Homo sapiens: one gene and its partner. The protein of the gene in region 1 purifies or fractionates together with the protein of each later gene. This does not show direct contact. Each region holds a gene or a part of one and is shown on either strand. Other genes may lie near its edges.

Region 1 (4,118 bases):
GGGCTACTGGGTTCTGGGTACTGGCTTCAAGCGATTCTCCTGCCTCAGCCTCCTGAGTAGCTGGGATTACAGGCGCGCACCACCACGCCCGGCTAATGTTTGTATTTTTAGTAGAGACGGGGTTTCATCATGTTGGTCAGGCTGGTCTTGAACTCCTGACCTTGTGATCCGCCCGCCTCGGCCTCCCAAAGTGCTGGGATTACAGGCATGAGCCACCGTGTCTGGCCCCTTCTCCTTTCTTAATCCTACATCTACTAAGATTAAGATGGAGGGAAGGACTAGCCCAGGGGCTGTTGGTTGGAGGTATGGGAAAGATCTGAAAATGGGAGAAGCTCCAGAGATGGAAGCAAGCCTGGTAGCAGTGGCAGCAATGGTAACAGATGCCAGGGCATATAGAAGAGCCTGAAGATATCTGGCCTTTGAAGCAACAGCTGTCTTTGTACATCAGCAGTTCCTGTGGGCAGAGCTACTTGAGGGGGACTCCCTAGGGAAATTCTCTGCCTTCCTGTTCAAGGTTCTCCAGCTTCCCTGCTCTCTACACCAATCTGCCAGACACATGCATCAAATGGCAGCTGCTCCTCCATCCCCTCATCCTAGGAGTGGATGTGTGGAGGAAGGAGCAGAGGCGCTGAGCTTGCAATATATCTTCACAAGGCAATACTATGCAGCCATTAGAATTGAGGAGGTAGAAGGTACACTTAACATGTGATAATGTTCTAGCACATTAAGTTTAAAAAGTACCTGTGCTAGGCCGGGCATAGTGGCTCAAGCCTGTAATCCTAGCACTTTGGGAGGCCAAGGCGGGCAGATCACGAGTTCAGGAGATCGAGACCATCCTGGCTAACATGGTGAAACCCTGTCTCTACTAAAAATACAAAAAAATCAGTCGGGCGCTGTGGCAGGCGCCTGTAGTCCCAGCTACTCGGGAGGCTGAGGCAGGAGAATGGTGTGAACCCAGGAGGCGGAGGTTGCAGTGAGCAGAGATAGTGCCACTGCAGTCCAGCCTGGGCGAAAGAGCGAGACTCCATCTCAAAAAAAAAAAAAAAAAAAAAAAAAAATACCTGTGCTAGTTTGAAGACCATGGAAACTGTGGTAGAGCAGAAAGTGCTCTTGATCCCAGAGAAAAAAGAAGGGTGGCAACAGTAAGGGGGAACAGCCAGGTCTTTCCATAATCCTCCCCCAGAAGACCCCATTTTCTCAGGCCAGTTGGCCCCCTTACCCATCATGAGCAGAATCAAGAACAAGTTACTGATCTCTTGCAGCATCGGTGGGCCCATGACCAGCAGCAACCCAGCCAGCAGTTCCAGAAAGCCCACAGCTATTTGGTAGTTCAGGGGATCTGGCTGGTAGCCAAATACCTTCAGCGGGAACACCTCAGCAAACTGCACGAACAGGGCATTCTAGGGGTGGCAAGGAATGCCTGTTAGCCTCATTGTTCAACAAGGATGAGCTCCCCAGATGCTCCATGGCATATCTATGCCTGTGCCCTCAACTTCCCAGAGAAAAGAACTACTACTCTAGGTCAGGTCCAGGGCTGAGGTCAGCCTGAAGAGGAGAGGGCTGCCCTGTGGCGCTGAGCTTTGGAATCAGGAAACAGGCTCCATGCTCCAAGTGGTACAGAGATTGATCTTCTCACTAGACCTCTCAAGAGATTACAACCCAGCCCCAAATCCCAGGAGGAGGGGGCTGGGCTTGGCTCCCTAGTGCCAAGGCCTGGGGAATTCCACAGTTTCCTTCTTTGTGTCTGGCCTGGTTTCTCTTAAGGCTGCTGTACAGGGAATATTTGGAGGTGAGGCAGAGTTAGGTGGGCTCAAAGTGACTCTTCTTGTCAAGGCAGGCCCTCCCCTGAGCCAAATGACAACTTCATCCTTACTTTCGGGGATACTTTTTCCTGTTCCCACTCCTCAGCTCTACCTCCCCTCCTCAGCTCTGCTGGGAAGCAGCTCTAAGCTGTCTGTCTCTGGGGATTTATCCAGGCCTTGGAGAGAGATGCCAGCAGAGGTCTACAAGTCTGGCTCTTTTGAGGGACTGGGGAGATTGGTGAACAGGATATGAAAGCTTTCCCATGAGTCTGGAACTAGACAGAAGGCTGAAAGACGACTTCAGGGCATCCCTCTCAGGCTTCCGAGAGAGGCTTCCCTCTCTGGGTTCCGAGTTAGGAGTGTCTAGCTTGTGTCCTGCTTCCTGACTAGATGTGCAATCTTTAGCAGATATACTTGCCCTTCAGGGCGGGCTTCCTTCCCTGCAAAGCCAGGATTACTACACCCCAACCCCACGAACCTCCCAAAAACTGAAGCAAACGGCGAAAAGAGGGAAGAGAGCGGGAAGTGAGCTCATTTTCCCACCGCATCATCCTCCCCCAGGGTCCGGGGGGGTGGGAGGGACCTCCTAAGGCTCTAGATTTGCCTGGGGCCACCAATATTCTGCAGGAAGGGGAGGTTCTGTCCCCTTCCGTCTAGGGAAGATCCAGAGAACTCGAGGAACTCCCCAGGCAGGACCTGCGCCTCAGTCGAAAGCCAGGCGCTTTCCCCCAGCTCCAGCTGAGCCTCGGAAGCCCGAAGGCGGCCTGCCGGGCCGGGGGCGAGGAGCGGCAGGGCGGAGCACACGCCGCCGCGGGCCCGATCCCCTGCCGCCCGCCCGCGCCGCTCACCATCCGCTCCGAAACTGGAGCCGAGATCTCCTCCGAGAGCTTGGCCAACCCCACGAGCGCGAAGAAGCCGCCCAGCAGTACACGCAGCACCGAAAGCAGGAGCGCCATGGCCGCGCTCCCCCCACCGTGGGTTGGCCCCGCCGAAAACCCGCCCCTGCCGCCGGCTCATTTCCTCCCTCCCCGGGGCAGCCGGAAGACTCTCGCCTGAGCTACCGTCCCCCACCCTCCAGGGGGTCGCGAGGCTGCAGTACTGGGGCAGGGCGCCCCCATCTTACAGGTGGGGACACTTGAGGACCACTGGCTGGTAACTGACTAAACAGGCACCTTTGGATTCAGGGAGTGTTTCCCAGCCAATACGGAGTGCTGGCAGACACGGGTGGGTGTCTGGGTGCGGTTCAGCTACCATCAAAAGACCCCGGGCTTCGTTCCTGCCTGTGCCACACTAGCTGTGGGATCTGAGCTGTCACCCACCCCAAAGGGCCTCAGTATCTGCATCTGTATATGGGGATAACTCAGTTCTCCAGAGTTTGTAACAGGCCTAGCACAGTGCCTGCACATGTAAGAGCTCAGAAAGTTATTTGTAAATTAGTAAATTAATTTATAAAATTGTAATAAATCAATAACCATTAATTATTAAATAAGTCTCTTTGCCTGAGATATCTTTTCCCTCTAATTTATCTCGGCTGACAATGAAATGTGAAAGGTGTTTGAAAATTCAGATACTTGCATGGATAGAGAGGCTTTCACTGAACCAAGCCCTACAGTCCACTCCTGGCCCATTTGCTCTTACCTGGAAATCTGTCTAAAGCTGGGATGGGCAAACCATGGGCCAAATTTGGCCAGATGTCTGATTTTTTTCCATGCTTCTCCCCTTCCCCCAAGCTAATAATGTTTGTTTACATTTTTTATGATAAAAACATTTTTTAAAGAAGCTTGTGTGACATAGGAAAATTATATGAAATTCATATTTCAGTGTTCATGAATAAGTTTTATTTAAAAACAGCCACACTTATCTGCATATTGTCTATGGCTGCTTTTGCACTGCAACTGCAGAATTGAGTAGTTGTGACAGTATGGCCTGCAAAGCTGAAAATATTTACTATCTGGCTCTTTATTTAAAAAGTTTGCTAAGCCCTGGTATATTGGGCCAGAAAGGCCCCAAGCAGGGGTCTCAAATCCCCCTGCTGCTTCCATTTATAGTTACCCAAGCTGCTTAGATCTATCTTTTTCCAGCTGGGCACGTTGGCTCACACTTGTAATCCCAGCACTTTGGGAGGCCGAGGCAGGTGGATCACTTGAGGTCAGGAGATAGAGACCAGCCTGACCAATATGGTGAAACCCCGTCTCTACTAAAAAAAATACAATAGACGGGCATGGTGGCACATGCCTGTAACCCCAGCTACTTGGAAGGCTGAGGCAGGAGAATTGTTTGAACCTAGGAGGCAGAGGTTCCAGTGAGCCAAGATCA
Region 2 (3,500 bases), on another chromosome or scaffold:
ACATAAACCCTTTTGGGGACCTTTAGTAAGACCTTCGAAACTTGAGTTCACTTCTTTTTTCTTCTTTAGCTCTTTTTTAAAAAAATATTGGGCCAGGTGTGGTGGCTCACACCTGTAATCCCAGCACTTTGGGAGGCCAAAGTGGGCGGATCACAAGGTCAGGAGATCCAGACCATCCTGGTCAACATGGTGAAACCCCGTCTCTACTAAAAATACAAAGATTAGCTGGGCGTGGTGGCATACGCCTGTAATCCCGTCTACTTGGGAGGTTGAGGCAGGAGAATCACTTGAACCAGGGAGTCAGAGGTTGCAGTGAGCCAAGATTGTGCCACCGTACTCCAGCCTGGCAACAGAGCCAGACTCTGTCTAAAAAAAAAAAAAAAAAAAAATCAAATACATATATACTCCCTTTTTCATTAATAGTTTTGCCAGAATGTATGGCTTTTGATTATAAATCTTATTTTTAGGTCAGCATGGTGGCTCATGCCTGTAATCCCAGCACTTTGGGATGCTGAGACAGGAGGATTGCTTGAGCCTAGGAGTTCAAGACAGCCTAGGCAACAAACTCAGACCCTGCTTATCCAAAAAAAAAAAAAAAAAATTAGCCAGGTGTGGTGGCACACACCTGTGGTCTCAGCTACTGGGGAGGCTGAAGTGGGAGGATCATTTGAGCCCAGGAGTTATGATCATGCTACTGCACTCTAGCCTGGGTGACAGAGTGAGACCTTGTCTCTAAAATAATCGTAATAATAAATGAGTACATCTTTTTTGTAAGCTGAGATAGTGAGTTGCTGCTGTAGTATTTGTCCACAATTAAAACAATGTAGTAAACATATTAGATATTGAAATAGTTTCTAATTCCTAATAGTCATTCAAAATACATATCTTACTATGAACATTAAAAATACATATCTGAGCCAGGCATGGTGGCTCACACCTATAATCCCAGCACTTTGGGAGGTGGAGGCAGGTGGATCACTTACTTGAGGCCAGGAGTTTGAGAGCAACCTGGTCAACATAGCGAGATCCCATCTCTTAAAAAAGATACATACACACACATACACACACACACACACACATCTGTCTTAAAGTTTGAGTTCAGCTAAGGGGTCAGTTATGTTTCAGGAATGTCCATGCAGAAGAAAAGTGATTTATGTATTGAAAATCTGTGTCTGGTCAACATGAGAAGATCGTTTGAAGCTTGAATGGTGTGTTCTTCTGTCTACCTTGAAAAACTTGTCCCAAAGTGAGTTTTCAAGATACAGGATGTATGACTGTCTAATGCTTGTGAGGAGCTTAGCAAGAATGACCAGCGAATTGCTTATGAGTCTCATTAGCTCATTTACAGTTGCCTTAAAACATAGCTGCATTGGGCTAACCCAAATGCCTCATCAACATACCTGTACAGATTCAAATATATGAGAAGTCTTCCCTCTAGAGAGTGAGCCCTTGCTTAGTGCTGCCTTTACAGCACTGTGCATCTTCTGGATTGTTCCGTTCAGTGGAAGAGAAGCAATGACCCCTCATAACAGAGACCTAGATTGAGTTGCTAATTATTCAGCCAGTATACAGTATATACTATAGTGTGGTTACTGAGATACTGAATAGTTTAAGAGTTTCTGCCATAATTAGTACCTCACCTACTACTTAAAAAAAAATAAACAACCATAACTTAATTCATGTTTTCAAAAAAAATTTAAAGCTTGAAGGAACCATATTTGTAACAACAAAATGTCACTTAAAATGATGGAGCCTATCAATATATTGTTACCTATGCAAGAACTCCCTTTACAGAGCTTGAAGTAATGCTAGTAATGTGACACATAATATATTTTATTCATGATTTGTCATTTAAATGTGTTCAGAATACTGATGGATTCATAAATATCTCATGAAAGCATACATTTTGACAAAGTACCAGGAGGCCCAAGGACATACAAATGGGGCAGAGAATCAGAATCCATTTGCAGTGTCCCCGACCTCTCTCACTGGCATGTTATAGACAAGTAAAGGTTGCACCCATAGCTAACACACACAAAAAGAAACACAATTAACAAGTACCTTTTGTTTGTTACCTTCTCATAAATGGCAATTAAATGAGTAAAAGTAGGTTGGTGTTAAGCTTGGCAAAAGATACTGTGGGGAAGAAAGTTGGCTGCTGGTTGTGTTTATTGTTTGTGCCATTTCAAGCTAGCAACCCTAACTGAGTCTCAGTCATTAGAATTTAGGTTTATTCCAAAGGTAATATCGACAGCTCAAATATGAGATTTGGCCAACAGTTACATAAAGTCACCATGCAGAGTACACCTCTTAATTTTTTTCAAATTTGTTTATAAGTAGTAGCATAAGCTCATGATAGTCTTTGGATTCGTTTTTTAATCTTATGATTAGGATCAAGGGTCAAAATAATATATGCTGCATATAAGATAAGAAAATAGAGGAAGCATGTGCTTTATAATAACTTCAGACCATGTCTGTGAAAACATTGTTTCCCATCAATATTTGATTGAGAGATGCAGTTTATTCAATATGCACTATGTATCAGACACTGTTCTAAGTGCTTTACAAATATTAACCCACTACAGTTAATTTATAACTTTCCTCAGAGGTAGGCACTATTATTAGTCCCATATTGAGGAAAAATCAGGCACAGAGGGGTATGATTATTTGGTCAAAGTCACAGAGCTCATTAAGAGTGAGGCTGGGATTCCCCAGCCGGTGATCTTGAGTCCTTGTGGTTAATCACTGCAGGTAAATCCCTGCAAGTTAATCACTGTGGTTAATGGTGCTTTCTTTATATTCTTATATGAGTTCATTTAGCCTCTAGATCTCACAAGTAGAAATTAAAATACATATGATAAATTAAGTTTTGGTACTAGACAATTTCTACGTTAAATAGTGGAAAGAAATATGTTAATTAATAGAAATATAAGTTCATTAAAATCTTAGATGAAAAAAGATTTTAAAACAGAAATTCAAAAGTATATATTATAAATGAAAGTATCATGTGTAGATTCTGAGTTTGGGGCTTCTGCCCAAGCTGTGTCAGAAAAAAGCATTACCAAGAGGTGGACCTACTTCGTACCCCTTCTTCTGCCCTGACACAGGCAGGAGAATGCAAGGTCAGAGATAAGTGGTAGATGGGGGGCCCTCTAGTTGCTGCCCATGCTAAAGAGGCATGGCAGAATTTCTCAAGTAGTTGCTTTACCAGTTGCTGCAGAAAGCTGCTCCTGGCTGCTCTAACTTTAGGCCTCTAGAAGCCCTGCTGCTTGAATCCATTGGTTTTACCTCCTGACTTATTCTTGAGGATTCCCTGGCAATGAATACAGGTTCCACCTTACATTGACCTTACACTTCAAGGATTGTAAACCATTGCTGATACTTTATCCCACTTGAGGCTTATAAGGGTTCTGTGAAATAAGCCCATACCCTCATTCTGAGGATAAGGAAACTGAAGTTCATGGAAGGTAATGCAGGTGGAGGAAGCAGGACTAAAACTC

Evidence for each region.
Region 2: the proteins of TMEM35B (region 1) and CRYBG1 purify together in Homo sapiens (affinity purification with mass spectrometry; one large-scale study listed by BioGRID and IntAct). This does not show direct contact.

The regions. Positions count from the first base shown.
Region 1 is NC_000001.11:34,982,548-34,986,665, forward strand, and holds the start of TMEM35B (transmembrane protein 35B precursor), read right to left. Parts: upstream 2,801-4,118; 5' UTR 2,759-2,800; coding exon 2,651-2,758; intron 1,401-2,650; coding exon 1,220-1,400; intron 1-1,219.
Region 2 is NC_000006.12:106,367,217-106,370,716, forward strand, and holds part of CRYBG1 (beta/gamma crystallin domain-containing protein 1), read left to right. Parts: intron 1-3,500. UniProt on the Homo sapiens protein: May function as suppressor of malignant melanoma. It may exert its effects through interactions with the cytoskeleton.